Linked DNA regions of Homo sapiens. The protein of the gene in region 1 interacts with the protein of each later gene in a pairwise test. Each region holds a gene or a part of one and is shown in the gene's direction. Other genes may lie near its edges. The genes, in order: DNMT1, MCRIP1, RPS6KA6 and TRIM3.

The links.
Region 2: the proteins of DNMT1 (region 1) and MCRIP1 interact in a two-hybrid assay, tested with the Homo sapiens proteins (one large-scale study listed by BioGRID and IntAct).
Region 3: the proteins of DNMT1 (region 1) and RPS6KA6 interact in a two-hybrid assay, tested with the Homo sapiens proteins (one large-scale study listed by BioGRID and IntAct).
Region 4: the proteins of DNMT1 (region 1) and TRIM3 interact in a two-hybrid assay, tested with the Homo sapiens proteins (one large-scale study listed by BioGRID and IntAct).

The regions. Positions count from the first base shown.
Region 1 is NC_000019.10:10,183,408-10,190,904, reverse strand, and holds part of DNMT1 (DNA (cytosine-5)-methyltransferase 1), read left to right. Parts: intron 1-7,497. UniProt on the Homo sapiens protein: Methylates CpG residues. Preferentially methylates hemimethylated DNA. Associates with DNA replication sites in S phase maintaining the methylation pattern in the newly synthesized strand, that is essential for epigenetic inheritance.
Region 2 is NC_000017.11:81,826,726-81,834,222, reverse strand, and holds the start of MCRIP1 (mapk-regulated corepressor-interacting protein 1), read left to right. Parts: upstream 1-931; 5' UTR 932-985; intron 986-7,497. Other genes in the region: PPP1R27 (protein phosphatase 1 regulatory subunit 27), read left to right, coding at 371-494. UniProt on the Homo sapiens protein: The phosphorylation status of MCRIP1 functions as a molecular switch to regulate epithelial-mesenchymal transition. Unphosphorylated MCRIP1 binds to and inhibits the transcriptional corepressor CTBP(s).
Region 3 is NC_000023.11:84,180,243-84,187,739, reverse strand, and holds part of RPS6KA6 (ribosomal protein S6 kinase alpha-6), read left to right. Parts: intron 1-280; exon of another isoform or gene 281-376; intron 377-392; exon of another isoform or gene 393-1,547; coding exon of another isoform or gene 1,548-1,679; intron 1,680-7,497. UniProt on the Homo sapiens protein: Constitutively active serine/threonine-protein kinase that exhibits growth-factor-independent kinase activity and that may participate in p53/TP53-dependent cell growth arrest signaling and play an inhibitory role during embryogenesis.
Region 4 is NC_000011.10:6,458,699-6,466,195, reverse strand, and holds part of TRIM3 (tripartite motif-containing protein 3), read left to right. Parts: intron 1-463; coding exon of another isoform or gene 464-500; coding exon 501-631; intron 632-7,497.

The DNA.
Region 1 (7,497 bases):
TTGATCTCAAGTGATCCACTTATCTTAGCCTCCCAAAATGCTGGGATTACAGGTATGATGGTGTCCAGCCGGTTCATTGTTTTTATTTTATTTTATTTTATTTTATTTTATTTTATTTTATTTTATTTTATTTTATTTTTGAGACAGAGTCTTGTGCTGTCGCCCAGGCTGGAGTGCAGTGGTGCGAACTTGGCTCACTGCAACCTCCCCCTCCCGGGTTCAAGTGATTCTCCTGCCTTAGCCTCCTGAGTAGCTGGGATTACAGGCATGTGCCACCACGCCCGGCTAACTTTTTCTTATTTTTAGTAGAAACCGGGGTTTACCGTGTTGGCCAGGCTGGTGTTGAACTCCTGGACTCAAGTGATTCGCCTGCCTCAGCCCCGCAAAGTGTTGGGATTACAGGCATGAGCCACCGTGCCTGGCCTTTTAATTCATTCTTAAGCCTGCTCTCAGACAGCTAGGCTTGCTTCTCCACAATAAAGAGTGTTGAATTTTGTCGGTGTATCCCGCATGGTGCCATTATAACACTGAAATTAGTGATTATTTCAGGGTCTGTTACCAGAGCGTGTCTGCCGTATTCACTGTATCTGCAGCTTGGAGCACAGTAGACTCAAATGCTTGCATGCCAGCTCTTCCCCTGTACAGCCTGGATTAACACTGATGCTAGCAGACTCCTTTGCACAACTGATTAGCTTTCGTAACTACCACAGCTTTCTTACTGCTAGTCATTCTGTGATGGGATTAAGCTAGGTCTTGAACTCCTTAACTCCAGTTCCTTGGCTACTACTGAGTACATACTGAATAAGGCAAAATTGACTTACCTCTTTTGTTTTGCTCCCCTGTGGTAGAATTCTAGGGGTACAGACTGCTGGGTTTCAAATGCCGCCCTACTTGCCAGCCGTATGGCTAAGTTATTGAACTTCTTGGTGCCTTGGTGTTTCATCTATAAAAAGGGGGTGGGGCTGCCTGCTCGACAGGGGTGTTAGGAAGACTGAGCTTATCAGTACAGATATGTTGAGAGCAGCACCTGTCCAAAGCCCTTCATCACTGGTTATTACGTGGTACTGTGTGTACAGTGGGGATGCTGTGGGTTTGGTTCCAGACCACTGCAGTAAAGTGAATCTAGCAAGAAAGTGAGTCACACACACATTTTGGTTTCCTAGTATGTGTAAAAGTTATTAGACTAGGCCGTGTGCAGTGGCTCATGCCTGTAATCCCAGCAGTTTGGGAGGCCAAGGCAGGAGGATCGCTTGAGCCAAGGAGTTCAAGACTAGTCTGGGCAACATAGGAAGACCCCCCCCATCTCAAAAAAAAAAATAAAGCCAAAAGTGGTGGCATGCACCTGGGGTCCCAGCTACTCGGGAGGCAGAGGTGGGAGGATCACTTGAACCCATGAGGTCGAGGCTGCAGTTTGCCATGATTGTGCCACTGCACTCCAGCCTGGGTGAAGGAGTGAGACTCTGTCTCAAAAAAAAAAAAAAATCAGCTGGGCGTGGTGGCTCACGCCTGTAATCCCAGCACTTTGGGAGGCCAAGGTGGGCAGATCACGAGGTCAGGAGATCGAGACCATCCTGGCTAACACGGTGAAACCCCGTCTCTACTAAAAATACAAAAAAAATTAGCCAGGCATGGTGGCACACGCCTATAGTCCCAGCTCCATGGGAGGCTGAGGCAGGAAAATTGCTTGAACTTGGGAGGCGGAGGTTGCAGTGAGCCGAGATCATGCCACTGAACTCCAGCCTGGGCAACAGAGCGAGACTCCGTCTCAAAAAAAAAAAAAAAATCATCTGAGTCTTCAGCGATTCATAATCTTTTTGCAGGTGGAGGGTCTTGCCTCAAACTTGCCGGCTTAAAGGACATACATTTATTACCTTATGCAGGTCAGAAATCTGATGTGGGTTTCACCGGATGAAAATCAAGGTGTAAGCAGGCTGCATTCCTTTCTGGGGGCTCCAGGGGAGAATCTGTTTCCTATTTTGGGGTGTTGGCAGAAGGTGGTAGTTGTAAGACTCAGGTCCCATTTTCTTCACTGGTTCTAAACTGAGGGTCGTTGCCCGCTTCTGGAGGCGGTCTCATCCCTCGGCTCATGCCCCCTTCCTCTACCTTTAAAGTCAGCATTTGCGGGTTGCATCTCTCTCTGACCCGTCCTCCAACGTTGCCCGCTCTCTGCAGCTAGAAAGGTTCTGTGTTCTTAAGGGCTGAAGTGATTAGATTGGGCCCACCCCAGATAATCCAGGATAATCTCCCCATCTCAAGGTCTGTATTCTTAGTTACATCTGCAAAATCGCTTTGGCCACGTAAAGTAATATATTCACAGGTTCCAGGGATTAGGGCATGAACATTTTTCGGTGGGTCCACTCTTTTTGAGATGGAGTCTCGCTCTGTCACCCAGGCTGGAGTGCAGTGGCATGATCTCGGCTCACTGCAACTTCTGCTTCCTGGGTTCAAATGATTCTTGTGCCTCAGCCTCTTGAGTAGCTGGGATTACAGGCGTGAGCCACCAAGCCCGGTTAATTTTTGTATTTTTAGTAGAGATGGGGTTTTGCCATGTTTCCCAGGCTGGTCTTGAACTCCTGAGCTCAGGTGATCTACCCGCTTCAGCCTCCCAAAGTGCTGGGATTACAGGCATGAGCCACTGTGCCCAGTGGGTCTACTCTTTTGCCTACTGCGGATGCCTTCTTGGGCAGCCCTGCTCCAGCTGCCATGCAGCCGGCCTGAAGAAGCTGGTTTGACAGAGACTTGTAACTTGTCTTGCATGGTCCACTATATTTTATTTTTAGAGACAAGGTCTTGCTGTGTCACCCAGGCTGGAATGCAGCGGCACAATTATAGCTCACTGGGCTCTAGTGATCCTCCTGCCTCAGTCTCCTGAGTAGCTAGGACCACAGGTGCATGCTGCCACACCAAGCTAATTACTATTTTTTGTTTAGGCAGGGTCTCTGCTGTGTTGCCCAGGCTGGTCTTGAATTCCTGAGCTCTATTGATCCTCCCGCTTTGGCTTCCCGAGTAGCTAGGCCTATAGGCACATGCTAGCACACCCAGCTAATTACTAATTACTATTTTTTGTAGAGACAGGGTCTCGCTGTGTTGCTCAGGCTGGTCTTGAATTCCTGGGCTCTAGTGATCCTCCCGCCTCAGCCTCCTGAGTAGCTAAGACTATAGGTGCATGCCACCACACCCAGCTAATTACTATTTTTTGTAGAGACAGGTTCTCGCTGTGTTGCCCAGGCTGGTCTCAAATTCCTGGGCTCTAGTGATCCTTCCGCCTCGGCCTCCTGAGCAGCTAGGAGTACAGGTGCGTGCTGTCATACCCAGCTAATTACTGTTTTCTCGTAGAGACAGGGTCTCACTGTATTGCCCAGGCTGGTCACAAATTCCTGAGCTCTAGTGATCCTCCCGCCTCTGCCTCCCGAGTAGCTAAGACTATAGGTGCATGCTACCACAGCCAGCTAATTATTCTTTCTTGTAGAGACAGGGTCTCGCTCTGTTGCCCAGGCTAGTCTCGAATTCCTGGGCTCAAGTGATCTTCCTGTCCTGGCTTCCCGAGTGTAGAGATTACAGGCATGAGCCACTGCGCCCAGCCATGGTCTGCTGTATTTCAGACGAGCATTTCTGGCGTAGAGGTGTTAGAGTAATCTAACATTTTATAATTTCTTCCTATCCAATCTATACTAGATACCTCTGCTGGGTTAGTTTTCTTAACACGGCTCTGATGTCATTGGTTCTACTTCCCCTTGACTGCTTTGGTGTTTGTTAACTATGGAACAAGATGGATAAGTGTGATGCTTTTGCCCTCCCTCCGACTGTCCCCAGCCACCTCTCTGGAGGTGCCTTTCCCTCCCTGTATGTGGCCAGTCTCACGTTTGTTTCTTGTGTGTTTCCAGAACCAGCCACTTCTCAATGGTGCCCCTGTTTGAGCAGCTTCCTGTGCCCGGTTCACACAGAGCTGTCAACTTCTTCCTGAGGCTGTTATACCCTTTCTCTTGGGAATCCCGCAGGCGTGAGCTGTATTTGCCTTATTCCTCTGTGGTTGTTTATATATATCTTTTTTTTTTTTTTTTTTTTTGAGACGGAGTTTCACTCTTGTTGTCCAGGCTGGAGTGCAATGACGTGACCTTGGCTCACCGCAGCCTCCACCTCCCGGGTTCAAGCGATTCTCCTGCCTCAGCCTCCTGAGTAGCTGGGATTATAGGCATGTGCCACCATGCCTGGCTGATTCTGGATTTTTAGTAAAGACGAAGTTTCTTCATGTTGGTCAGGCTGGTCTCGAACTCCTGACCTCAGGTGATCCGCCCGCCTCGGCCTCCCAAAGTGCTGGGATTACAGGCATGAGCCACCGTGCCTGGCCAGCTGTTTATATATATCTTATCTCCCCTCTGCAGAGGGTTCATCTCTGAGGGAAGCACTAGGAAGGAATCATAGGGTCTCAGGCTGGGCACTAAGCCGGCATTCTGAGTCCTCTGCTCCGTCCTTCACGGCTGTCTGCGACCCTCCTGGCTTCAGCAGGTGTGATCGGTGTCATCACAGTTTTACCAGGGAAGGGATGTCGCTAAAGTTACCCTCCCGCCAGCTCCTCACTGCCTGCCTGGGATCCCACCTGCCACTCTGGGGCCAGGCAGGTTAAATCCAGTTTCTACTGGATGAAACATTCTAGGGGTTTTGAAGGTTTCTCTATTCTCTTTGCCAGGCTAAATATCCCAGTTCATATGAGGGGTTGAAAGAAAGCAGACCCATTCTGCAAGGACACCTTGGTCTCCGCAATCAGTTGAACCTTGTCCTTCACACCCCAGGCAACCTCGGGATCAGGGGACTGGCTGGCTTGGTCGAGGTAGAAGCCATGTCCTTCCAGTTTTCTCAGCGGCGTGACTGAGAAGTCAAGTGTAACGCTATTACCACAGCGTGTGTGCCTCTGGCTGGAAGTACCAGTTTCTGTAGCCCTCCTGACTTAAGGCTCTCCTTGGACCCCAGTTGCTACAAGGGTAGAATGACTTTTGCCTGGAAGAGGTTCCTTGTGCTCCTGGAAATCCTGATGTCAAAGCATCTTTTTTTTTTTTTTTTTTTCTTTTGAGACAGGGTCTTGTTCTGTTGCCCAGGCTGAACAGGCTGGATTGCAGTGGTACCATCATAACTCACTGCAGCCTCAACCTCCCAGGCTCAAGCGATCCTCCCACCTCAGCCTCCCAAGTAGCTGGTACCACAGGTGCACACTAACCACACCCAGCTAATTTTTACATTTTTTTTGTAGAGATGGGATCTCTCAGTGTAGCCCAGGCTGGTCTCAAACTCCTGACCTCAAGTGATCCTCCTGCCTTGGCCTCCCAAGGTGCTGGGATTACAGGCATGAGCCACTGCGTCTTGCCTGGCCTTGTAGCACCTTGAGTCCAAGTGATACAGTATATATAATATACAGTCTATATTACCACTGTGTTTGTAGGGTGCTAAGTGTCTCTTCTACAGAGCAGTCTTTTTTTTTTTTTTTTGAGACAGAGTTTTGCTCTGTTGCCCAGGCTGGAGTGCAGTGGCATGATCTTGGCTCACTGCAAGCTTCACCTCCCGGGTTCACGCCATTCTTCTGCCTCAGCCTCCTGAGTAGCTGGGACTACAGGCGCCCACCACCACGCCTGGCTAATTTTTTGTATTTTTAGTAGAGGCGGGGTTTCACTGTGTTAGCCAGGATGGTCTCCATCTCCTGACCTCATGATCCGCCCACCTCAGCCTTCCAAAGTGCTGGGATTACAGGCGTGAGCCACCGTGCCCGGCCCTACAGAATGGTCTTTCCTAACCACACAGCAAGTCAGGAAGTCCCTGCCTAGTGACACCTACATCTAATCACTTAGCTCTTTGCCTGGAGCAGGGCCTGGCATTCAGCAGGTGCTCATATGTGAGCGGCGCTGGTGGGGAATCAGGGCCCGCATGACCCAGAGCAGCTGTTGTAAGACATGGGTCCAGCAAAGCATTCCTCATGCTGCTGCCTGCACTTACCCTCTAGGAAGGCCAGCCTGGAGGAGCCACTTCTGCCCTTCAGGCAAATGATAACTGAGCACCTGTCTGTGCGGGTGCTAGGTGGAAAGGTCCAGAGATGGCAGTGGCCTGGTCCCTGCCTGGGGCACCTTCTCTCCACCAACAGACACTTACCCAGCTGGTTAGGCCTGTTCTCACCCCGCAGTCTGTAGTTAGCACCCAGGCTGGGAACAACAGCCTGTGTTCCTCTCCCTTTCCTTGGTACCTTCTCTTCTTGTTCCTTTATTTTTTTCTGAAGAGATAGGATCGCCCTATGTTGTCCAGGCTGGACTCGAACTCCTGCCCACAAGCCATCCTCCCACCACAGCCTCCTGAGTAGCTGGGGTTACAGGCACGCAGCACCGCGGCACTGCACCGGCTATTGTTCTTTTATTTTTTTCCCTCTTTGTCCCTGAAAGAGTCAAGCTACTAATTGTCAGTAATCAAATCAGACCACGATTTCCCAGGCAAACTCCTGGCAGTTCTACATTTAGGAATGACTAGCTAGAGACATCCTGAAGAATGAGTTATTCGGGGAGGCGCCAGCCACCTCCTCTAACTTCACCTCTATCTGCCCTCTGTGTGGGTACCCCTTGCTTCCCTGGATGCTTGACTCCCCCATTTCATCCTCAAAATGCCACCACCCCCCACCAGGCCTTTAGGAACATCAGCTGGCTGTTCCCCACAGTGTCCTGTGGCCCTGGGCTACTCATTCTGACACTGGCCATACTGTGGCACACCTTGTTATGGGCTGTTGTCAGACCCAACTGGAGAAAGACCAGCTGTAGGTCATTTCCCTTACGGGAGTGCCCCAACTATATGACCTGCCCCCTCTTTCCTGGTATCTTTTTGAGTCAGGGTCTCACTCTGTCTCCTAGATTGGAGTGCAGTGATGCAATCACGGCTCACTGTGGCCTCGACCTCCCAGGCTCAGGTGATCTTCCTTCCTCAGCCTCCCAAGTAACTGGGACCACAAGCACATGCCACCAAACCCAGTTATTTTTATTTTATTTTATTTTATTTTATTTTGAGACAGAGTTTCACTCTTGTTGCCCAGGCTAGAGTGCAATGGTGTGACCAGCTCACTGCAACCTCTGCCTCCCGGGTTCAAGTGATTCTCCTGCCTCAGCCTCCCAAGTTGCTGGGATTACAGCCACCCACCACCACGCCTGGCTAATTTTTGTATTTTTAGTAGAGATGGGGTTTCGCCATGTTGGCCAGGCTGGTCTCAAACCCTTGACCTCAGGTAATCCACCCACCTTGGCCCTCAGGTAATCCACCCAACTGCTGCTGTATGTTGGGATTCCAGGCATCAGCCACCACGCCCAGCCACTAATTTTTGTATTTTTGTAGAGATGGAGTTTCGCCATGTTTCCCAGGCTGGTCTGAACGCCTGGGCTCAAGTGATCCGCTCGCCTTGGCCTCCCAAAGTGCTGGGATTATAAGCGTGAGCCACCATGCCTGGTCTCTGGTACCTTTTAAAATATACAGGCTGGG
Region 2 (7,497 bases), on another chromosome or scaffold:
CTGAGGCAGGAGAATCACTTGAACCCGGGAAGTGGAGGTTGCCGTGAGTCGAGATCATGCCATTGCACTCCAGCCTGGGTGATAAGAGCGAAATTCTGTCTCAAAAAACAAAAAAAACAAAAAAAGAACCCTGCAAACCCTAGAGGCTTCTGGAATCCTGTTTCTGCCTTTGTCCTCAATAGAACCAACTTGAAAAGCTGGCCACAGCTTCCAAAGGGTCAGGTTTCTTCCTCCTCACCCTACCCGGACCTTAGGACCCCAAGGTGGGGGACACACAGGTGACCCCAGGACTCTGGCCCTCTGACCCGGGTTGGGGCGAGCACTCTCCTGGCTCCTCCCCGCTTCAGCCAGAGCGACCTTTACACCCCAGGTACCTTATCTCCCTGGGAGCGGACAGGGATGCAACCAACGACGATGGCGACCTGCCCTCCGACCTCATCGACCCGGACTACAAGGAGCTGGTGGAGCTCTTCAAAGGGACCACGATGGACTGAGCCAGCTTTGCCCGCCCGCCCCCGCGCCCAGGGCCGCCTCCCTGGAGAAGCCGCGCGTCGCCCATGGGCCAGCACGTGCCCCACCCGTGGGCCAGGGGCGGCCGGACCCGTCCCTCCACGACCCCGCCACCCCTCCTAGGCCTGGCTTTGTCCCCAGGTGAATTTTTTACTGTGACACTTTTTACTTTTTCAATAAACGTGACTCCCAGGTGAGGGGGCCTGGGTCTACACACGTGGTCCCTGTGGTGGTGTCCTGATTACTGGGCTCTGGCCGCTCCCAGTGGCCGGCGGCGCTCACCGTTCGGGCCAGGGAGGTCCGGAGCTTCCGCCACGAGCCCCAACCCCGCACGGGAATCCCGGCCGCCCCCGCCCTCCGCCAGCCGGGCGGTCACGTGAGAGCGCGCTGCGCCTGCGCCTGTGCAGCCCGCGGTGGCGTCACTTCCGGCGGGGCCTCCCAGCTGGAAGAGGCGGTGGCGGCGGGTCGGGGCGAGGTGAGGCGGGTGCGGCGCCGGGCGGCGGGGACGGGGCGGGGCGGGGCGGGCGCGGCTGGGCCCCGCCCTGGTGTCGCCGCGCGGCCGCGGGTGCCCTGCAGGGCCGGGCGGGGCCGGGCGCGGGGGAGTGGCCGGGCAGCCGGGGTCCGAGGGAGGGGCCCGCGTTCCCCGCCCGGCACCTGCAGGAGGGCGCGGCCCGCGGGGCGCCTGGGAGCGCGCGTGGGGAGGGCGCGGCTCGGACTGAGCGCCTTTCCCGCCCAGGCAGGGGCAGGTGCCGGGGACCCAGCGCCGCCGGACGCTCGCAGCGGGCCAGCCTTCTGCCGCCGTCGGGGCTTTGGGGCTGACAGAGCCCCGCTTTCCCGGTCTCCTGGAGGGACCGTGCCTGAGGATGCCTCCGATTCTCGGAGCGCCGCGGGCCCGGCCGTCCGCATTCTTTTTCTGTCCATTTTTCGGCCTTGCCCTCTTTCCCGTCTCCCCGGGCGGTGATGCTGGGCCTAACGGGGAGAACGGGGCCTCCGCCTGCCTTCTAGGCACTCACTGGGCGGTGGTTGTGACCGCGGGGGCGGGAGCCATACGGGGCACGGGCTGTGCTTCTCTCCCTCCTGCCCCTGGGTAGCCGTCGCAGGAAGGTGGTCTTTCAGCTGGATCCCCAAGGATGAGTAGGATAGTTTTGGGCAGAGAAGACAGCTTGACCAAAGGCCCTGAGGTGTAAACAGGGACCAGTGAGTGGACTTTGGGTGGGATGTGGCGAGAACGTGTAGAGAGGGTGGGAAGTGGGACGTGAAGGAAGAGCCAACAGGGCTGGATTTGGGGCGAGTCAGGGGAGGTTGTGGTTTGAGTGGGATCAGGATGGGGAGGAGGGCGCACACGCTCAGGCTGTTGCTGCCACCACCCAGGGGAGAGGGTGAGGAGGTGGTGCAGCGCTTAGAGGCTTTCCCTGGGCGGTCTTCAAGGGACCACGAGGTGCCAGTGTGGCAGCTGTGACAGCCGTATCCTCGTGCGCCTGCTTGGGCAATAGATCATTTTCTAGCCTCGTTGGCTGAAAAAGACACAGAACACGAAGAGAAAGTGGAGTCTTAGAAACTTTGAATCTCAGAAACTCCGGAGGAGCATGGTGACTAGCGATGGCGTCACTGATTCTAACTCTGGAACCTCACTATTGTCACGTTGCTGGAGTGTTACCTCATGGCCTGTTCTTAGGCATGTGGCTGTGTGGGGGAAAGAATTTGGGACTGGGAGGCCAGAGACTGGGGTTCTGTCCCCTCCCCACCTGGAAGTCTCTAAAGCCCTTGGGTCCCCTGGAGGAGGAAGGTTCTACATAGTTCTACCCAATGCGACTCCCCTCCCTATCTGGAGGGAGGGCCAGTCTCTGAGCAAAGCCACATGGGTATCAGTAGGGAGTGGGTCTTTCAGGGAGTCCAGAAACCTGCTGTAGGGTGCAGGCAGAGTGGAGGCAGACTTTGGGAGGCTCAGGCCAGCTGCAGCATTCGGGCTGAGCCCCAAATGCTGTGGCCCCGGAGGCCCTGGGAGGGGCACCGCTGCTTGGTGGCAGGCTCCTTCAGCGCTGAACTGGAAGTTCTCAGGGTATCTTTCTGGTCCAGCTGTGGGGATGTGGGCAATGTGTGTAAGGGCCCAGCGTGGTGGCTGCCCTGCCCTTAGCCCGACAAGTGTTTGCTGTGGCTGGTGGCAGTCTCTTCTTTCAGTCCCCAGTGCTTTTCTGGGCCTCCACCTTCCTAAGAGTGGGCTGACTCTACATTCCAGTTTACCCAGAAGAGTTGTTTCATTCTTGATAATCAACAGCATCCCTTTCGTTCTTTTTTTTTTTTTTTTTTTTTGAGGGCAGAGAGCAGAGATGGGGCCCTTTTTTGTTTGTTTGTTTGTTGTTTGTTTTGAGATAGAGTCTTGCTCTGTCTCTGTTTCCCAAGCTGGAGTGCAGTGACATGGTCTCTGCTCACTGCAACCTGCGCCTCCTGGGTATAAAGCGATTCTCCTGCCTCAGACTCCTGAGAAGCTGGAATTACAGGTGCATACCACCATGCCTGGCTAATTTTTTTTTTTTTTTTTGAGAGACAGAGTCTTGCTCTGTTGCCCAGGCTGGAGTGCAGTGGCACAATCTCGGCTCACTGTAACCTTTGCTTCCTGGGTTCAAGCGATTCTCCTGCCTTAGCTTCCCAAGTAGCTGGGACTACAGGCATGTGCCACCACGCCCAGCTAATTTTTGTATTTTTTTTTAGTAGAGATGGGGTTTCACTGTATGTTGGCCAGGCTGGTCTCGAACTCCTGACCTCAGATGATCCTTCCACCTTGGCCTCCCAAAGTGCTGGGATTACAGGCATGAGCCACTGCGCCTGGCCTAATTTTTGTATTTTTTTTTTTTAGTAGCAATGGGGTTTTGCCATGTTGCCCAGGCTGGTCTCAAACTCCTGACCTCCTATGATCTGCCCACCTCAGCCTCCCAGAGTGCCAGGATTACAGGCGTGAGTCACCGCACCTGGTCGAGATGGGGCTCTTTCTATGTTGCCCAGGCCAGTCTTGAACTCCTGACCTCCCAAAGTGCTAGGATTACCACCACATCTAGCCCCTTTCTTTTTTCTTTTTTTGAGATGAAGTCTCACTCTTGTCCCCCAAGCTGGAGTGCAATGGCGTGATCTTGGCTCACTGCAACCTCTGCCTCCCGGGTTCAAGCGATTCTCCTGCCGCAGCCTCCTGAGTAGCTGGGATTACAGGCGACTGCCACCACGCCTGGCTACTTTTTGTATTTTTAGTAGAGACGGGGTTTCACCATGCTGGCCAGGCTGGTCTCGAACTCCTGACCTTAGGTGATCTGCCCACCTCAGCCTCCCAACGTGCTGGGATTACAGGCGTGAGCCACCACGCCTGGCCCCAGCCCCTTTCATTCTTAACAGCATCCAGTTGAACCATACAGCACATGCTTGTCCTGTCCATCATCGTATTGGATAAGGAGCCACAGAGACCTCACTGAGCTGCTGGCTTTCCATGGCTGTGCTTCCGTCCCTATTGGAGCAGGCGAGCCTACCTGTGGGCTGCATCACTTTGAATGAGGATGCTGAGGCTCAGAGGAGCTTGCCCGGGGCCCCAGAGCAGGGGAATACCTGCAGCCCAGTAGGCCAGGCCCTGTAGGCTGGACGGCCACGGAAGCAGGCAGTCACGTCCTGCAGAATGCACAGACTTGCAGGTGGCCTGTGCTCTGTGTGGCTGGTGGCAGGTAGTCCTGTGGCAAAGGCTGTTGGGGCAGGAGTGGAGCAGCAGGTGACACCTGGTAAAACAAGTTGGGACTGGACAGTGGGCTTGATGGCAGCAGAGGGCCTGGGTGACACCCTAGTGCTAAGTGACTTGGGGATAGGGTTTCAGGAAGATCATGTAGACATCTGTGTCCACCTGTCCTGATGCTGGGTGTCTGGAACTGGAGGTTGTCCCAGCACTGGGTGGGGTGGGGTGGCGTGGGATGTGGAAGACTTTGAGGGGAAGGGGAGAAAACACCTAAAGACCATGTAGCCTGAGGGGCTCTGGAAGGGTGGTCCTGGGCCAGGAGAGTGTCATCGAGGGTCCTCCCATGTGAGACCCCAGCCATTGTGAGCTGCGCTATATTTTACAGTACATTGAGAAATAAAAACCACCATTGGTTAAATTCTGACGTGTTAGCAATTGTCAGGCGCAGCCCAGTTTCAAAGATGTTAAAATATGAAAACTATGAAAGAAAACTCTCAGAGGCAGTGGGGTGTGGTGTAGCGACTGAGGAGTACGGGGCCGTGGCCGGGACATCGGCATGCTCGGTCTTGATTCTGACAGAAAGAGGGAAGGAAAACGGGACCGAGGCATCGCCTGACCCTCCCTTACTGCTGTCACCCTGGTGGTGGCCCAGGTGGGATGAAGGCAGGGGGCCGGGCTGGATGGGGTCTCGAGACCTCTGAAGTGGGGCTGTCTCTCTGGGCTGAATGGAGCCCCTCCCTCCCACCCTTCACCTGTGGTCGGCCTCGGTCAGGCCGCCACTCCCCTTTACCTGGGCAGCTGAGGTGTCAGTCTCCTGCTGGCTCAGGGGCTGCCACCTCAGGTGGCCGTCTGCCGTGTGCTGGGTCTTTTCCGGCTGCCCCCGGCGCTTCTCTGGGCCTGTGCCATTGTCCCCTGCTCACTCTCACCCACTATGGTCCTGGGTCCCTCCACATCCACCACCTCAGGGACCCCATGCATGGATGTTGTGCCTCAGGGTTCCCTCTGCTTAGCCAGACACCAGCCTGCTGCCCACCAGGCCTGAGCTAGGGCTGAGCTGCCTGCCAGCCACACTTCCTGCCCTCCCCCCTCAGCTGTGTGCCTCACTATGCTAGGCCGCCCCGCTGAGGTTGTTGGAGGCCTTATTGTGGCTCCATGGTGACCTCTTGGTTCAGAGCTTGCTTGACCTCCAGCCCTCTCCGTGGATGGCTCCTTCCTGCCCTCACAGGCACCGTCCTGGCCCCGGCTCCAGTTATGTCCATGCCTCGGCCCTCTGCAGCTTCCTCCCATTCCATGTGTCCCAGGGCCTGTCTGTGGCCCCTCAGGTCCTGCTCTTGTGCTTGGTGTCCGTCTCTGCGTGGGGGCTGTGGTGCCCCCTCTGGCTGCTGATTCCCTTATGGGAATAGGCCAGGTGTGCATTGCTACCCTTCTGCGGTGGCTCTTCCCTTTGGGTAATTACGAGTGAAATTCTCCAGCTGTCCTTGTACGCATCTTGGGTGTGTGTACCTAGGAGCAGAATGGCTGGGTCATAGGTTGTGCACAGATACTTGATTTTTAATGGAAAATTCCTTCTGGGTCAGAATTGGGCACCCAGCTCCTTGGCAGGGCCCCAGGAGGCAGTGAGGCTGAATGAGCTGCAGAACCGTTTATTGTGCTTCCAGGGGGACAGCAGGCCCCTGGCCTCTTGGAACTGCTGGCACATCCAGGAAAGCCTGGGGCTATGTGTGCAGGGTCGGGGGGTGGGGGGGCAGTGTGAGGCCCTGGGGGTCCCTAAGCTGGAGGAAGAAGTAGGGAGAGGTGGGAAGGGCTCTTCGTGTCTGGGAAGACTTAGAGGACACAGCCTGTGGTATTGAGGGTGTGGGTACATTTCTTTTCCTAACAAGAGGAGGCAAACGAGACTCCTTGTTGACTTAAAAAACTGTATGGGTGCAGCTGGGTGTGGTAGCTCACACCTGTAATCTCAGCACTTTGGGAGGCCGAAGCAGATGGATCACGAGGTCAGGAGATCGAGACCATCCTGACTAACACAGTGAAACCCCATCTCCACTAAAAATAGAAAAAATTAGCTGGGCGTGGTGGCGGGCGCCTATAGTCCCAGCGACTCGAGAGGCTGAGGCAGGAGAATGGCGTCAACCCGGGAGGCGGAGCTTGCAGTGAGCCAAGATCGCGCCACTGCACTCCACCCTGGACGACAGAGCGAGACTCCATCTCAAAAAAAAAAAAAAAAAAAAAATGTATGGGTGCACAATAGGTGTATATATTTATGGGGTTTTAAATTTATTTACTTAGAGACAGAGTCTCCCTCTGTCACCCAGGCTGGAGTGCAGTGGTATGATCATGGCTCACCACAGCCTCCACCTCCCAAGCTCAAGCAATCCTACCACCTCAGCCATCACTCCTGCCAAAGTTTTTATATTTTTGTAGAAATGGGATTTTGCCGGCCGGGCGTGGTGGCTCACGACTGTAATCCCAGCACTTTGGGAGGCCCAGGTGGGTGGATCACAAGGTCAGGAGATCGAGACCATCCTGGCTAACAGGACGAAATCCCGTCTCTACTAATAATACAAAAAATTAGCTGGGCGTGGTGGCGGGCTTCTGTAGTCCCAGCCACTTGGGAGGCTGAGGCGGGAGAATGGCGTGAACCCGGGAGGCGGAGCTTGCAGTGAGCCAAGATGGCGCCACTGCACTCCAGCCTGGGCAGCAGAGCGAGACTCCATCTCAAATAAATAAATAAATAAATAAATAAAAGAAATGGGATTTTGCCATGTTGCCCAGGCTGGTTTTGAACTCTTGGGCTCAAGTGATCTGCCCTCTTTAGCCTCCCAAAGTGTTGGGATTACAGGCCTATTTTAATAGGCCAGCAACCGTACCTGGCTTTTTTTTTTTTTCTTTTAGACGGAGTCTTGCTCTGTCGCCCAAGCTGGAGTGCAGTGGCACGATCTCGGCTCACTGCAACCTCCGCCTCCCAGGTTCAAGCACTTCTCCTGCCTCAGCCTCCTGAGTAGCTGGGACCACAGGTGCCCACCACCACATCCAGCTAATTTTTGTATTTTTAGTAGAGACAGGGTTTCACCATATTGGCCAGGCTGGTCTTGAACTCCTGACCTTGTGATCCACCCGCCTCGGCCTCCCAAAGTGCTGGGATTACAGGCGTGAGCCACCACGCCTGGCCTTTTTTTTTTTTTTTTTTTTGAGATGGAGTCTTGCTCTGTCGCCCAGGCTGGAGTGCGTTGGCGCGATCTTGGCTCACTGCACCTCCACCTCCCGGGTTCAAGCGATTCTCC
Region 3 (7,497 bases), on another chromosome or scaffold:
AGAGGCGTAGGGCCGGGAAGCGGGCTCCCGGGCAAGCCCCCTTGATGCTGCCTCCACTGCCCTTTCGCTGGGGAGCGGGCGGGGATGAGACGGCGGGCTCGGGCTTGCGGAGTGAGTGCAGCCTGGGCCCGGGCTCGGCCTTGGGCGGAGCGCCTGCCTGGCGGGCCACGCCAGAGTTGTTGTGACTAAGTTTCTTCACTTTCCGACCCGAAGGGGAACTGGGGGACTGGCGGGGTGCTGTGCCTGACTCCGCGCGTCCCTTTTTCTCCGCCGCGCCTAGTTTGCTGGCTGGGAACATTTTGGGGGACAGCTGCGGACTCCAGCTCGCTGTTGAACCCCGGACGCTTTACGAACCCAGTGCAACAAACACACCAAGGTGACTAAGTAACTCTGGGGACATTTGCACATAGGCACGAGTGTTCCCTGGTAACAGCTTTCTCGTTTCTCTGTGGCTTGTTATGGTTCCTTGTAATGACCCATGTCGAGATACACTGGCGACCTATCTCCAGTCGCCAGGTTTCAGGTGATGTTCTACTGCTTCCTCTCAGGTCCCCTTGATTCTACTGCACTCTTGCTCCACCCCTTCTCCTTTCCACAACCGCTGTCCCTGCCCCGTTGGTCTGTAAAAGAAGACGCAAAGTAAACCCCAGCCCTTATAAATAAGTCGAATCTTTGGTAAGACTTAGCGAGGTTCAACCAAAATACTTTGGTTCACCTCTCTTCCCACTCTTCTTACTCTGAAACTGTTCTGGTTGGGCTTTGGTCAGCTGTGCAGTGAGAACTTAGATGTACACAGGTGCTTTGTTTTTATTGTTGTTATAAAAGCGGGCAGCATTTAAACACAAAAACGTGTCTTTTGTGATAGAAAGTTGGATCCTTTTCTGATAACTTAATCGACTGCGTACTACTCCAGTAGAGGCCACCATACACCTCCTAAAAATAGTTGGTGAAATTGATTCACAGTAGGATATTTTGAGGTAAGACTCTCAATCCTCGACATCTAAAGGGTGCAACTTTGTCTTCAAGTACTTGCTCCATTTAAAAAAAATACACATTTGGCTGTTGTATGATTACCTTGTTTTTTTTTCTTTAAATTTTTTTGTTATTTATCAACTAAACTGGGGTTAAGATTACATGCTAGAATAACATGTGGTAAGGAATATAGTGGAAATAAATTCAGAAGTACCCTAAATCTGAACCCTCTATACTTACAGGAAATATTTTACTAGTAAACCAAGCAATTCCAATATACGTTTTAATATTTTACATCTCGTAAGAACAAGATAAATGAATAGGCGTTCCTTTCTTGTTGAAATGTGGGAATGCTAACTGTTTGCACAATTGTCTAGCAAGTCTATTGAAGGGGAGAGGAACTTTGTTATATTCATGTATGTAACTTACTGAACTTATAGGCATTTAGTTTATAAAAACAGTTAAATGCTTTGATATAAGGATGGGATGGGAGGTGGGAATCCTTTTGCATGCCTACTATTTTATTATTTCTGTTAACTTTGAATGTAGTATGTTTTAAATTGTAATTACCACATATGGTTTTTTTATTGTTTGCAGTATGTTTTAGGTATTGTAGAGATTTAACAATGGGTCTCTCTACCTCAGCAATTTGGAAAAATACTCGAGTGGAAATTGTTAATCCCTATGAAGTAAAACGAAAGGTGAAGGTAATGTGGTGAAGATAGTATTTCTGCCTTCTTTCTCTAAAACAGTTATGATTGGTTAGATTTAACCCTGCAAGTTACTTAATAAAAAATATTATAGGTGAAAACTAAATGCTACATTTGAACAGACCCACTTAGTACTTAGAAGAGTTTGTTTGTTTTTAATTATATTCTTTTGATAAGAAGTAAACAAGTTTACTTTTGATAATTTATATTTTAATTACAAATTTGTTGATGTTGGCTTTAAAAATGCTAATTTTGAGTACAAGCTCTACAACCCTCAATTGTGATAATTTTAGGACTAAGAGTGTTTTTGTTGTAGAATATATATTTTTAAAATGTGCTAGAATCCTTAAAGAAAATGTAGGTAAGAATCTGTTAACTTTAATGTCAAAAGAAATAATTTCCGTCCATTTCTGTGTGTGTTGAATCTGGTAAGATTAAAGATTATAGACACTACCATATATTTTGGAGTCTTTTTGTATCTTTTACCTGTCTTGCTTGCATGGACAGTTGTTAACCTTTGAATTATCATTCAGAAGTGTGTAAATTGGTTGTTTGAGACTCTTAACATGTTTTCCCACAGGAAAAACTTATTAAGGGTACTTATATTTTTAGATCAGTACATAATAGCGAGGTATAATGATGCCGAGCCTAACCACTGTTTGTAAAATTGTTCTGTGGTGAAATGTGTCAGGTTTCAACCAATAACTAGCTTGGTTCCAGTGAGAGGTAGAGAATGGGCCTGAAAAGGGGAAACCTGGAATCTTTTGGTTTCTGGGAAGAGAGTTCTTAGAAGAGGGGAAATAGGGTAAGCAAGAAACTGATTGTGAGAGCTCTTGCAGGGACTGTCTCAATGAGGTCTACTGGGAATAGGAACTTCAAAGGGCATCACCCCTCACGCAGTCACAATTTAAGCTTTTGACTGGATTCTGTCAGGATCAAGAAAGAGGTTTTACTTGAGATGGGATGGGTATTGGTCATTCCTGGGCAAGGATCATAAAGAACAACCTGTTTGACTAATGTGAACTTTTCATGATTTAATGCCATGCATGTTACAGTTTGTTCGCTTAGTTGTTTGTTTTTTGGTGAGGAACCAAGTGCTTCTTTATCAAGTTGATGATGTAATTTTCACATTTCATATCATAGTAAACGTGTAGTACTTTTATATTATTTCTTTAGCAATGCTGTTTTTATTTAAGCAAGTTAGTTTTTTTTTTTTTTTTTTTTTTTTGAGTCAGGGTCTTTCTATGTCATTGTACATTGTCCAGGCTGGCCTCGAACTCCTGGACTCAAACAATCCTCATGCCTCAGGTTCCCGAGTAGCTGGGACTACAGGTGCTCACAACCATGCCTGTCTAAACAAATTAGTTTTGAGAGTATGTAGTTTACTGATAAAACCAATTTGGGAAAAACTTCTAGTTTTAATTAATTTTCATGAGACCCTATAGTAATAGAGGAAAGAACAGCTTTGAAGGCAGGTAAATCTGGGTTCTTGTCCGAGCTCCATGCCATACTCATGATGTGACACAATCCACGTTACCTAACCTCTCTGAACCTCACTTTCTTTGTCTATAAGTTGGAGAAAAAACATCTTCAAGAGTTGTTATGTAAAGAAAATTCAGTGCTGGGTTTAATAAACTTAGCAAGATGTTTTGCACTTAGTCTCTAGTACACAATAGTTCCTTCTCTTTTCCCACAGTCATCATGCCTCTTCCCATGCCCCTAAAGTCTGAACTATTGTCATCTATGTTAAAATCCTGGGATTCAGATAACCATGGCCTTAGCCGCAGCCTTCCATTTCGTAAGCAGTTTTTCTTAAGACCCCTTCCTAAATTTGATCATTTCATCTAAGTATAGTGGTGCTCTCACTGTGAATGTTTGTAATCACAGATAGGGTGATCCAGAGATAAAATACAAAGTTATATTTAGAAACAGTGGAAGGATAAGAAGAGACAGATAATTTCATTTATTATATCTGGCTGATGAGGTGTTTCATTGAAATTTTTAATTTTTTAAAAAAATTCTGAACTCTTGTCATGGTAGGAATTGGTTCAATTCATGAAGCATTTATTGAGTACAAGGCAGTGCTGTACATAGTGCTGTAATGTGAAATGCCTAAAAATATACCACAGAGTCCCACCCTACCCCCACAGGTTTACATTCAGGTAGTAAGACAGGCATGTATGGAAATTGTTATTGTAAAAGGCACAAGATTATCAACAATGGGGTGGTGGTGGTGGTGGTGGGGGTGGTGGTGGTTTAGGAATGGATCTGGTAAGGCTTTGTGAAGGAGGTGGAATTTGAGCAGGGCATTAGAAAGTGATAATATTTTCACAGACAGATGAAAGGAGCATATTTCACGTGGATGGGCACAATATAAGAAAAGGCATGGAAATGTTCTGAAAGAAGGAAGAATCTGATACTGTTGTAAGTCTGTGATGTGGGAGAGGGGATATAGTGAGAGATAAGGAATGTATTAAAGGTAAGCTAGGCCCAGGTTGAATGGGACTTTTTAAGCCAGTTTAAGGGTTCAATTTTATCTCATAAATAGGAGCCACTGAAGGTTTTTGAGGACATGAGTGACATTATTAGATTTGTGCTTTGAAAAATAATTGACGGTAGTGAGGAATGGGGGAGATATGGAAGGTGGGGAATTCCAGCTAGGAGGCTATTGTGTTAGTGGAAGTAGTAGTGAGATTTTTGAACTAGTACAGAAGGGGTAGAAAAGAGATGACTGATGGGAGAGACCTGGCAGAGGTAGAATAGTTACAATTTGGTAACTGATTAGATGTTGGAGAGTAAAAAGAAATAACAAACAATTGAGATTAGAAGCGTCCTGGTAGGAATTAATTCAATGTAACAGGTATTTAATGCATACCTGCCAATATAAGTCTCTGTATTAGCCACCAGACTAATATAAAAATAAATAGATCTTTGCAGTATAGGGAGATAGAAAGCTAAAATGAAATCTCCCCTTTCTAATATTGTATTGAATAATAGCATTCCACTCTGAAGGTTTCTGATCGTGCTTAGAATGCTTAAATTCTTTACTACCAAAGGTGAATACACTTATTACTAGCTAAAACATTTTTAATTCTTTTTAAATGGGCCTTAGGCCTGTAATTCTTGTTTCACCAATGTTCATCTTCAGTAGTCAGCAGCCGTGAGTACAGAGTCCTATTCTGAAAATAATGACCAGTACTTATTTCTGGAATGTGGAAGGAGAGCAGGGACATCTGTATTTTTTCTATGCTTTCACCAGGTTTATTTGGAATAGACAAGCGGGGAGGAGTCAGAGGGCAGTGGCCCCTCCCTGCCACAGGTGCCTTCTCAGTTCCTCCAAGTCAATCTTTCTTTAAGCCAGTCTGATCTGGAAATATTCAGGTCAGTTCCTTCAGGGCAGGTCCTCTATATTTCCCTACCTTGATTAGTTCATCAAGAGAGCTAATCATTACCTCTGTGTTCCATGATAAGGCCTACTGATAGTGTAGTTGCTTTTCTGGGCCATATTGTTTTAGTACCTACCCTCTCATAGTCTCTCTCATCTAGAATTTTGATGAGGAAATGCAAGATTTTTTTCCCTTCCTGTAATTTCTTTCTTGGTGCTATCATTGTATGTAGCAGCGGTTCTTAAGATTTGATAAGCACTTGGAATCTTGAGGTATAAGCCTTTCAGTACTTTGTCAGAATTTGCTATGTAATGTTTATTCATTTATGTTATTTCCAAGGATTATTTACTGTTGCTGCCAATATTTTTTTTTGTTGTGTATTTTCTTTATTTTTGTTTGTTTTTAGGTAGGAAAGGAGTTAGATGGGAGAGAGATTTAGAGAGCTGAGCTAAATCTGGCTTTTGCAGATAAGAGACGTTTTCTAAATTGCCCTGGAGACATTCTGTAACTGATTTCACTGCTAGATTTTAATCTGTATCTCTACATTAGAAACAGGTCCTGCTGTAGTTTTGTGTGCACGTGTGTGTGTGTGTGTGTGTGTGTGTGTGAGAGAGAGAGAGAGAGAGAGAGAGAGACAGAGAAAGAGGGAAGGTGGAGTAGAGTGCATGTGTGTTACTTGTGATTTGCTTCATTTTACCAAGCATTTGAGATGGTATATGGGAAATATAATCTGATAACTATTTTGATATTGAGGATAAGGGAAAACAAAGTAGGAGATATATGAAAAGGGTGGAGGGTAGGGGATGAAGGGTAAAATAGAGCACAAATAAGCAGGCTGTAAGGGTCTATGACATGTTTAAAATATAGTTGAATTATAAATTTGGCCTTGAGTTTTCTTAGCTGGTTTTTCTCAACTCTGGCTGTGTGTTATATTTACCTGGGAGTGTAAAAAAATTATCCATGCCAGTGTTCCACTCAGAGATTCACATTTAACTAATCTAGAGGGGGCCTGGGCATCTATTCCCCAGATGCTTATGATGCACAGCCAGGGTTAAAAACCACAGCTCTAGGCCAAAGTAAAAAAAGAAATAGTCACGTAGTTGTCATTATTCAATAGGAAAAAAAGAATATTAATTTGTAAGCTAGCAATTAGCTCTGCAGTAAATTATCTGTGAATTGTGATATTTTTCTGTGTGTTTTATTTTGTTGTTGTTTTAAGATATGACTGGAGCCAAATTGGGTTGTTTGAACTGCCCTGTATGTTCTTGCTCTTTAGTTTTGAGGAATTTGCTTTTCCAGTAGCATTAAAAACAAAATTTAGTACCGTAGCTAGTTTTGATATAGTTCAGCCATATAACTAAGAGGTTAAATAACTTGTTCACCCATTTTACTAGCTGAGTAAGGAGATAGTGACTCTGTTTTGAATGACAAATATCCCATTACATCTCTAACAAAAAATTTCAAAACCCATGGGTAATTATTACTAAGAAATCCCTCTGCCTCTCCTGTAAAGTGATTGAAGACAAACTTTAAGAGGAAATATAGCAATTTAAACACCCAATACAAATTTTTTAACCTGAAAAAACGTTGGAATCCATTCCATTTAAAGGTATCGAATCTTAAGGGAGAAAGAGATAATAGCGTTTATTGAGCATGAACTATGTACCAGCTAGTACTAGATGCATCATAGATTATCTCAGTTTTATTCATTCTTCAAAACATCTTGGTAAGACAGTTATGTCTTTTTAACAGAATAGAAAGATACATGCAAGTTAGTAGGAAATACGTCTGGAATTTGAACCTAGATTATTTTAAATTCATGCTTTTTCCTCTATACATTGCTATCTCCCCCCTAAGGACAATATTGAAAATAAGGAGAGAATATAGATACGTTGTTAGCAACCATATTAGATCAGCAGTCAGATGTGCTGATTCAATAGCCATGCCTGTCTATTTAAGTTAAATAAATGTCAACAAAATCCCAGCAAGTCTGTTTTTTTGTTTTGTTTTGTTTTGTAAACAGACAAGCATGTTCTAAAATGTATATGTAAAAGTACAAGACCTAGAAGCTCTAAAACAATTTTGAAAAAGAAAAATAAAATAAGGAATTACTCTATTGGATATTACGTTTTACTATGTAACTATAATAAAGACAATGTGGTATTGGTGGAAGAATAGACACGTAGATCAGTAGACCAGAATAGAGTACACAGAAATAGAGCCACACAAATACACTCAACTGAATTTTGAGAAAAAATGCAAAAAAATAAAAAAATAAAGAACAAGATCAGCTTTTAAAATCTGAGGAAATTTTAGGGGGAAAGTTGCTACCTTTTTCAAAAAGGCAGAACTTGAAATTTGCACTTTCTTTCTGAAGATTCTGGGGAAATTATTACATAAAACATTTTTGCTATTTTCAGTTACTACAG
Region 4 (7,497 bases), on another chromosome or scaffold:
GTATAAATGGAAGAGCTGCAGGTAGTTAGAGGAGAGACACTCCATTCAGGTCTCTTGGAGGAGGATTTGGGGGAGGTAGAGGAGATGAAGGGTAGGTATGTCAGTGAAAATGGACATCTCTGTACCATGCACTCAACAGGCACTATGTCACACTCTCAAATTATTATTCCTGTAATTACAAATTAAGAGACTGAGGCTCAGAGAAGTTACATGGATTGTCCAAGCTCACATAGCTGGTGAGAGACTGAGCCAGGTTTGAAACCCAATCTAATCCTACGTCTGTGCTCTTAAACAGAACACCAGGCTCAGAGGTCACATCACCCTGATCCTTCCAGTCACTGCCCTGTCTTGCCCCTAGCAGGGAAGAGGTGGGGGCAAGTTCTCTGCAGGGGATTTGAGTGGCGGGGATTGGGTGGGGAGAAGAAGTTCTGGACTCCCTGGTGCTGACCATCTCTCCATACAGAGGCTGGTGTGAGTGGCGGGAGCCATCTGTGGGCGCCATGGCAAAGAGGGAGGACAGCCCTGGCCCAGAGGTCCAGCCAATGGACAAGCAGTTCCTGGTATGCAGCATCTGCCTGGATCGGTACCAGTGCCCCAAGGTTCTTCCTTGCCTGCACACCTTCTGTGAGAGGTGAGGGGATGTGTGTACTGGGGAGGGATGAGGACCCTGTGGGGAGGATGAGGATCCTCCTCCCCTGTGGGGAGGGTGAGGGAGCATGTGTAAACCTGTAGTAGGTGAGGCAACATGCTTACCTGGGAGGAGAGCAGGTGAACCCCAACCTGCAGGAAATGAGGTTTTGAGGGCAAGAACCTGTGAGAGAACCATAAGAACCATAACACTGGGCCATGGTTCCTGTCAAGAATAGGGCCTTCTCTGTCCTTTCCCAAACCTCAAGGCAGCTTTTGACACCACCTAAGAAATCAAACAGTGCTCAGACTCAACCAGCTTTGGCATCAGCAATTTATGACTAGTTGGAGGATATTTGAAGTTAGGTCTGTCCTTCCCTGCTTGTCCTTGTTGTCCTCAGGTACTGAGTGAAAGGCAACCTGTCCCAGCCTCTAGGCTTCTATGGATCACTTATTCATTTAACAAATATTCATTTATTGAGCAACTACTATGTGCCAGACCCTGTTCTAGGCATTGGGTATGCAGTGATGAGCAAAAACAGATAAGATCCTTACTCTTTTTTTTTTTTTTTTTTTTTTTTTGAGATGGAGTCTCGCTCTGTTGCCCAAGGTGGAGTGTAGTGGCACGATCTCGGCTCACTGCAACCTCTGCCTCCCAGGTTCAACCAATTCTCCTGCCTCAGCCTCCGGAGTAGCTGGGACTACAGGCGCACGCCGCCACGCCCAGCTAACTTTTTGTATTTTATTACAGATGGGGTTTCACCGTGTTGCTCAGGCTGTTCTTGAACTCCTGAACTCAGGCAATCCGCCTACCTCGGCCTCCCAAAGTGCTGGGATTACAGGCGTGAGCTACCGTGCTTACTCTTTTTAAAAACTGATACACAATAGTTTACATATTTATGGGGAACATGTGATACATTGTTACACAAGCATAGAATGGGTAACAATCAAGTAGGGTATTTAAGGTATCCATCACTTACAATGCTTACTCTTAAAGAGCTAACAGTATAGTGAAAGAGAAAGATAGTCATCAAATAATCATATAGCCAGATTATAGATAAATATAACTTTTAGTAAGTGCTGCAAATAAAGTGCTGAGCTATGAGAGATTGGCATATGGAATCTGTTATAGTTTGGAGAATCAGGGAAGGTTTCCCTGAGGAGCAATTCAGAGGATGAATAGGAGTTAACTAGGTAAAGGGGGTTGGAAGAGCATTCTGCACAGAAGAAAGACCATTGGAAAAGCTCATGTGACATGAGAAAATATGTCAGGTAAGAGGCCTGGAGGAAGCCTGGTAGGGCTAGAGCAGAGTGAGTGTGACTGAGAGTATTATGGGATGAAGCTGGAGAGGTAGGTGGAGGCCAGACCACCTAGGGCTTTGTAGACCTGTTAGGGAATTTCACCTTTACCCTGAGAGCCACATGAAGCCTTTGCAGGGTTTTATATGTGATCACATCTGTATTTTGACAATATTCTCTTGGGCCCTTATCTCTCATTGTTCTGTCTTGGGTGGCCTGGTCCCTAGGTCTTCTCACCACCACTGCCTCTATCCGCACTTTTCCTCTGCCTTCTGCCCCAACGGAAACCTGGCTCTGCACCAGAGATACTGCTTCCCTGCCAGCCCTGCTCTTTGAGATTCCAGCTCCACTGCCCACTCTCCTTTATCAACTGGAAATGGCCTCAGTTTTCCTGTCCATTCAAGTTCTTCTGTCAGCCTGGGGACAACCACCCTCTTGTGCCTGTTGGTTCTTAACTGTTTCTTCAGGGTTGTCCCCCATTCCACCTCAGTAACACTCCCTCCCAACCATGCCCTGAATCTTATAATCCAGAATCTTATCTGTAGTCATAAACGCCAACGTTCCACTCCTGGCTCCCGTTACCCCACTCCCATTACACCACTTTCGATACAATATAGATATCTAGCCCCTTTGACTGCTCCCTCTTTTCCCAGTCACCAGCTGCGTCCTGGCCTCCCTGTCTTTCCTGCCCATCCTGGACCCTGTGGCTGACCGACTGGCTCCCCTGCAGTTCCTTCACATCTTTATCCTTTGCAAAACCCATGCAATAGAAGCTCAATGTTGGATCAGAGCTGAAATTGGATGTCTCTGCACTTTCTCCTGTGCCCAGATCACTGAGCACTCCTGGAGAAAATCTGGCTGAGAAATTGTAATAACAGTAGCTACCATGTATTGATTGCTTACTGTTTGCCAGGGACTGGCTAAGTGATTTATACATACTGATTTCCTTAATCCCTGCAACAGATACTTTATTAACTTCATTTTATTTTTTTATTTTAATTTTTTAATGTAACTTTTCATTTTAATTTTTTTTGGTTTGTTTTTTGTTTTTGTTTTTGTTTTTTTGAGACAGAGTCTCTCTCTGTCACCCAGGCTGGAGTGCAGTGGCGCCATCTTGGCTCACTGCAATCTCTGCCTCCTGGGTTCAAGTGATTCTCCTGCCTCAGCCTCCCAAGTAGCTGGGACTACAGGCGCACGCCACCACATCCGGTTAATTTTTGCATTTTTAGTAGAGATGGGGTTTCACCATGTTGGCCAGGCTGGTCTCGAACTCCTGACCTTGTGATCTGCCCGCCTCAGCCTCCCAAAGTTCTGGGATTCCAGGCGTGAGTCACCGTGCCCAGCTTGTTTCAATTTTTTAAATTTTATTTTTTTTTTAGAGATGAGTGTCTTGCTATATTGCCCAAACTGGACTTGAACTCCTGGGCTCAAGTGATCCTCCTGCCTCAGCCTCCTGAGTAGCTGGGATTACAGGTGCAGGCTACCACACCCAGGTATCCCCATATTAGAGAGGAGGAAACTAAGGTTCAAAGTCAGTAAATAATTAAGAAATATCTCTGGCCAGGTGCAGTTGCTCATGCCTGTAATCCCAGCACTTTGGGAGGCCAAGGTGGGAGGATCACTTGAGCCTAGGAGTTCCAGAGTAGCTTGGGAAACAACATAGTGAGATGCAGTCTCTAAAAAAGAATTTAAAAATTAGCTGGGTGTGGTGGCATGCACCTGTAGTTCTAGCTAATCGGGAGGCTGAGGTGGGAGGATCATTTGAGCCTGGGAGGTGGAGGCTGCAGTGAGCCATGATCACATCACTGCACTCTAGCCTGGGTGACAGAGAGAGGCTCTATCTTAAATTAAATAAACAAATAAAAAAAAAGAAATATTTCCAAGGCTACACAGTAAGTAAATAGCTGAGATCTGAATCCAGTTTTCACTGCAGAGCCTTCACTGTCAACTAGTATTCATTCATGTATCCCTTGGTCCCTGCTCTCAGAGGATGTTCTAGTGGGCAGTGACTGACAGTAAGCAATCAAGAAAACGAGAGCTGCAGCTTGTATTAATGTTTTACAGGATATAAACAGAGAGAAGTAGGGGTGTTTGGGGCAAGAACTATTCTATATAGTCATCAAGGAAGGCTTCCCTGAGGAGGTGACATTTGACCTGAGTTCTGAGGATAAGAAGGAGACAGATTGTTCCAGGCAATAGAAAAATCTGTGCAAAGGCCTTGAGGAAGAAGTAGACAGGACATGTTCAGATACCAGAAAAGAAACCAGTGTGGCCAAGTGAGGAGTAAAGTGGGATGAGGTGAAATTGGAGAGAATAAGGGCAGTTTAAGGGGGAGCTTGTAGGTTTTCAGAAAGTGTTTGGATTTTATTTTAAGTGCAATGGGAAACCATTGGAGTTTTTAAAAATATATATATACAGGGAAATAATGTAATGTAAAAAGTTCACCCTAGCTGTTATGGAGAGAATGGATTATAAAGGAGCAAGAGTGGAAACAGAGACCAGTTAGGAAGCTATCGTGAGCCAGGTACACTTGACAAATAGGAAGGGGATATTGCTGAATTAGAAGGTGTTTTGCATGGGGAAACACTAGATTCAGTGAGCTTGGAAGAAAGCTGCTGAAGAATAGAGTAGAATGGTTGAAATGCAGTGATAGTTGATGAGAAGTGGGTGTTAGTGGGAGCATGGGAAATGGGGGAAAAGATCACTGGGGGTGAGAAGGTCAAGGAATTAAGAAATCACAATGGGGGATGGATGTTAGTGCCACTGAGAATGATGGCAGAGTGGTGCGGGGGGTAATGGAAGAAGAGAGTGAGCCAAGAGAAAGATGTCCACAATTGGAAGTGGGGGCAACCATTAGGTTAGCAGAGACAACAATAAGGAGGAGTGATAGAGATAGAAGGCATGAGCTTCAAAGGAGCTAGAGTTGAATAGTTCAGAAATGTTCCAGTTGGGAAGAGGGAGGGCTCAAGCCCACCTTCTGGCCCTAAGGAGTGTGGAGTATGAGACAGAAACCACTCTACTTGAGAGGACTGCAAGGAAAAGTAAGTCACAATTAAATAAGTTACACTGGGCATGGTGGCTCATGCCTGTAATCCCAGCACTTTGGGAGGCCGAGACGGGCAGATCACCTGAGGTCAGGAGTTTGAGACCAGCCTGGCCAACATGACAAAACCCCATCTCTACTAAAAATACAAAAATTAGCCAGGCGTGATGGTGTGAGCCTATAATCCCAGCTGCTCGGGAGGCTGAGGCAAGAGAATCGCTTGAACCCGGGAGGTGGAGGTTGCAGTGAGCCAAGATTGTGCTACTGCACTCACACCTGGGTGACAGAGCAGGACTCCGTCTCAAAAAAAAAAAAAAAAAAAAAAAAAGCCACCAAAAAAACAAAAACAAAGAAAACACAATTAAATAAGTTAATACTTGTGAAGCACTTAGAATCATGCCTGGCACATAGTGTTTGTCAGATTTTAATTAAGATCCTAAGTTATAGGAAACATTAAGAGTTGAGATTGAGGATATGGGAGAGTTTGCATAATGCAGATCTTCACTCCACAAATTTGAGGTCCCCAAATACAGCTGCCTTCAGTTCTGATGTCTGTTTCTAGTAAGTGTCCTCTGCTCTCCCATCACTGACTAATCTGAGCCATCATCAGGCCCCTGAATCCTCCATCCTTCACTCTCCTATGTCCCTAGTGCCTCTCTATATCCTCCTCTCCTTTCCTCCTTCCCTCCATTCAGAGACTGACGTCCAGTCCTCCTCTTCAGGCCAATCCGAGGCACTCCCCAATCCTCAAGATCTTCTCCTCTCAGTTTTGTAGTCTCTTCCCCCTCTCCTTCTCTCCTGACTCCTCCATTCATAAACATGCTCAAAACTCCCATGCCAAACAGGTAAAAACTCTTTCTAGCACCATCCAACCCCTCAACCAGCTCCTCATTGGAACTTTCAAGCTCCCCTTCACTCAACTTCCAGCAGTCAAGCTTTCCTTCTCCTGCCACTCCCTCCCTGTTTTCCCTACAGACAAAGTACCCTCACATTTGCCAAATTCAGTGGACATTTTCCTGTCCTTACCTTACCCAACTCGTCAGCTGCTTTTAACGCTGATGACTACTCATTCCCTCCTGGAAATGTACCACTCAGTTTTCTGCCCTAACACAGCTGCTCTTCCTGCCTCTCGGCCTGGTCTTCTTTGTTGTCCTCATTCAGTTTTTGCTAAGTGCTCTGTCCCTCTCTCTTATCACTGTCTATGCTTTCTTGTCTGATCTCATCCTCTCCCAGTGCTACCGAAGCCATCTAAATGTTGATGGCATGCCCATCTCTTGTCTCTAACCTTCATTCTCCTGTCTACTGGTGACCTCAACCTGGGTGTTTATTGTTACAGTAAATTCAACCAGGACAAGGCTGAACTTTCCTATAGCTACTCCTCTTTCTATGTTTCTCATCTTAGTGAATGTCACCACTATCCACTCAGTTATCAAAGCTAGGAATTTGGAAGTCAGCGAAGACTCATCATCTCTCTTGCTCCCCATATCTAATCAGACAACACCTCCCACCTTCCCTCCTTCTTAAACACTTCTCAAATTTATTTCCACCTCATAGTCTACATTACTATTGCCTAAATCCAGGTCTTCTTCACTTCCTACCTAGATGATTGTAAGAGTATGCTGGCTAAGCACATACTTTGCATTTGAAGACAGGCTTCAGCACCTACTGCTGTTGTTACCTTGGGCCACTTGCCCTTTCTCCTGCTAACAGAAACGTAATCAGAAAGCATGGCACCTGGCACATATGCACTTAATAAATGGTAACTAGCTGGTGATGCCACTGCCCTCGCCCCCCAACCCCATCTGCTGTCTCATTCCCTTTAAATTCACTCCCCACACAGAGGGGGTGAAGAGGAGCTTGGTAAAATATAAACCTGGCTATACCACTCTCTTGCAGCTTCCTATTGCTGGCAGGATAACTTCTAAGCTCCTTGACTTCTGTCACCATTCCTTGCCTTGGACTTTGTCTCTAGCCAGCCACATCAAACTGCTTACAGTTGCTTATTCATACTATGCTGCTTCTTGCTGCCTTCTGTATCTGGACTACCCTTCCCCCTCTGCCTGCACCATTCTTTGGTCAGGCTAACAATTATTTATCCTTGAAGATTTAGTTTGCATCAACTCTCTGAAGACTTTCCTGGACACCCTCTCCACCTGCTTGAGCCAGATGCATTTCCTTATCACTTTCTATCATTCCTTATATTAATAATAAGTAATACAAGTAGCCTACCATATATAGTGCTATTATGAGTCAGGCATTTTACATTTAATCCTCTTCAAATATAAGTAAGTACTTTACATGTAATCCTCTAACACTCTGTGAAGTCTGTACTTCTCCATCTTACAAAGGAAGAGTCCTTGGCTTGTCAAAGTTATGTAACTTGTCAGGGGTCATACAGTATAACAGGTGACCAACGGGGTGTTGGGCCTGGGCAGCCTAGCTCCAGGACCCATTCCCTTAATCATCATGCTATTTACTTCTGTACTATTCCTGTGACTTTTTTCTCTGTAGATGGGAAGTATTTTAAG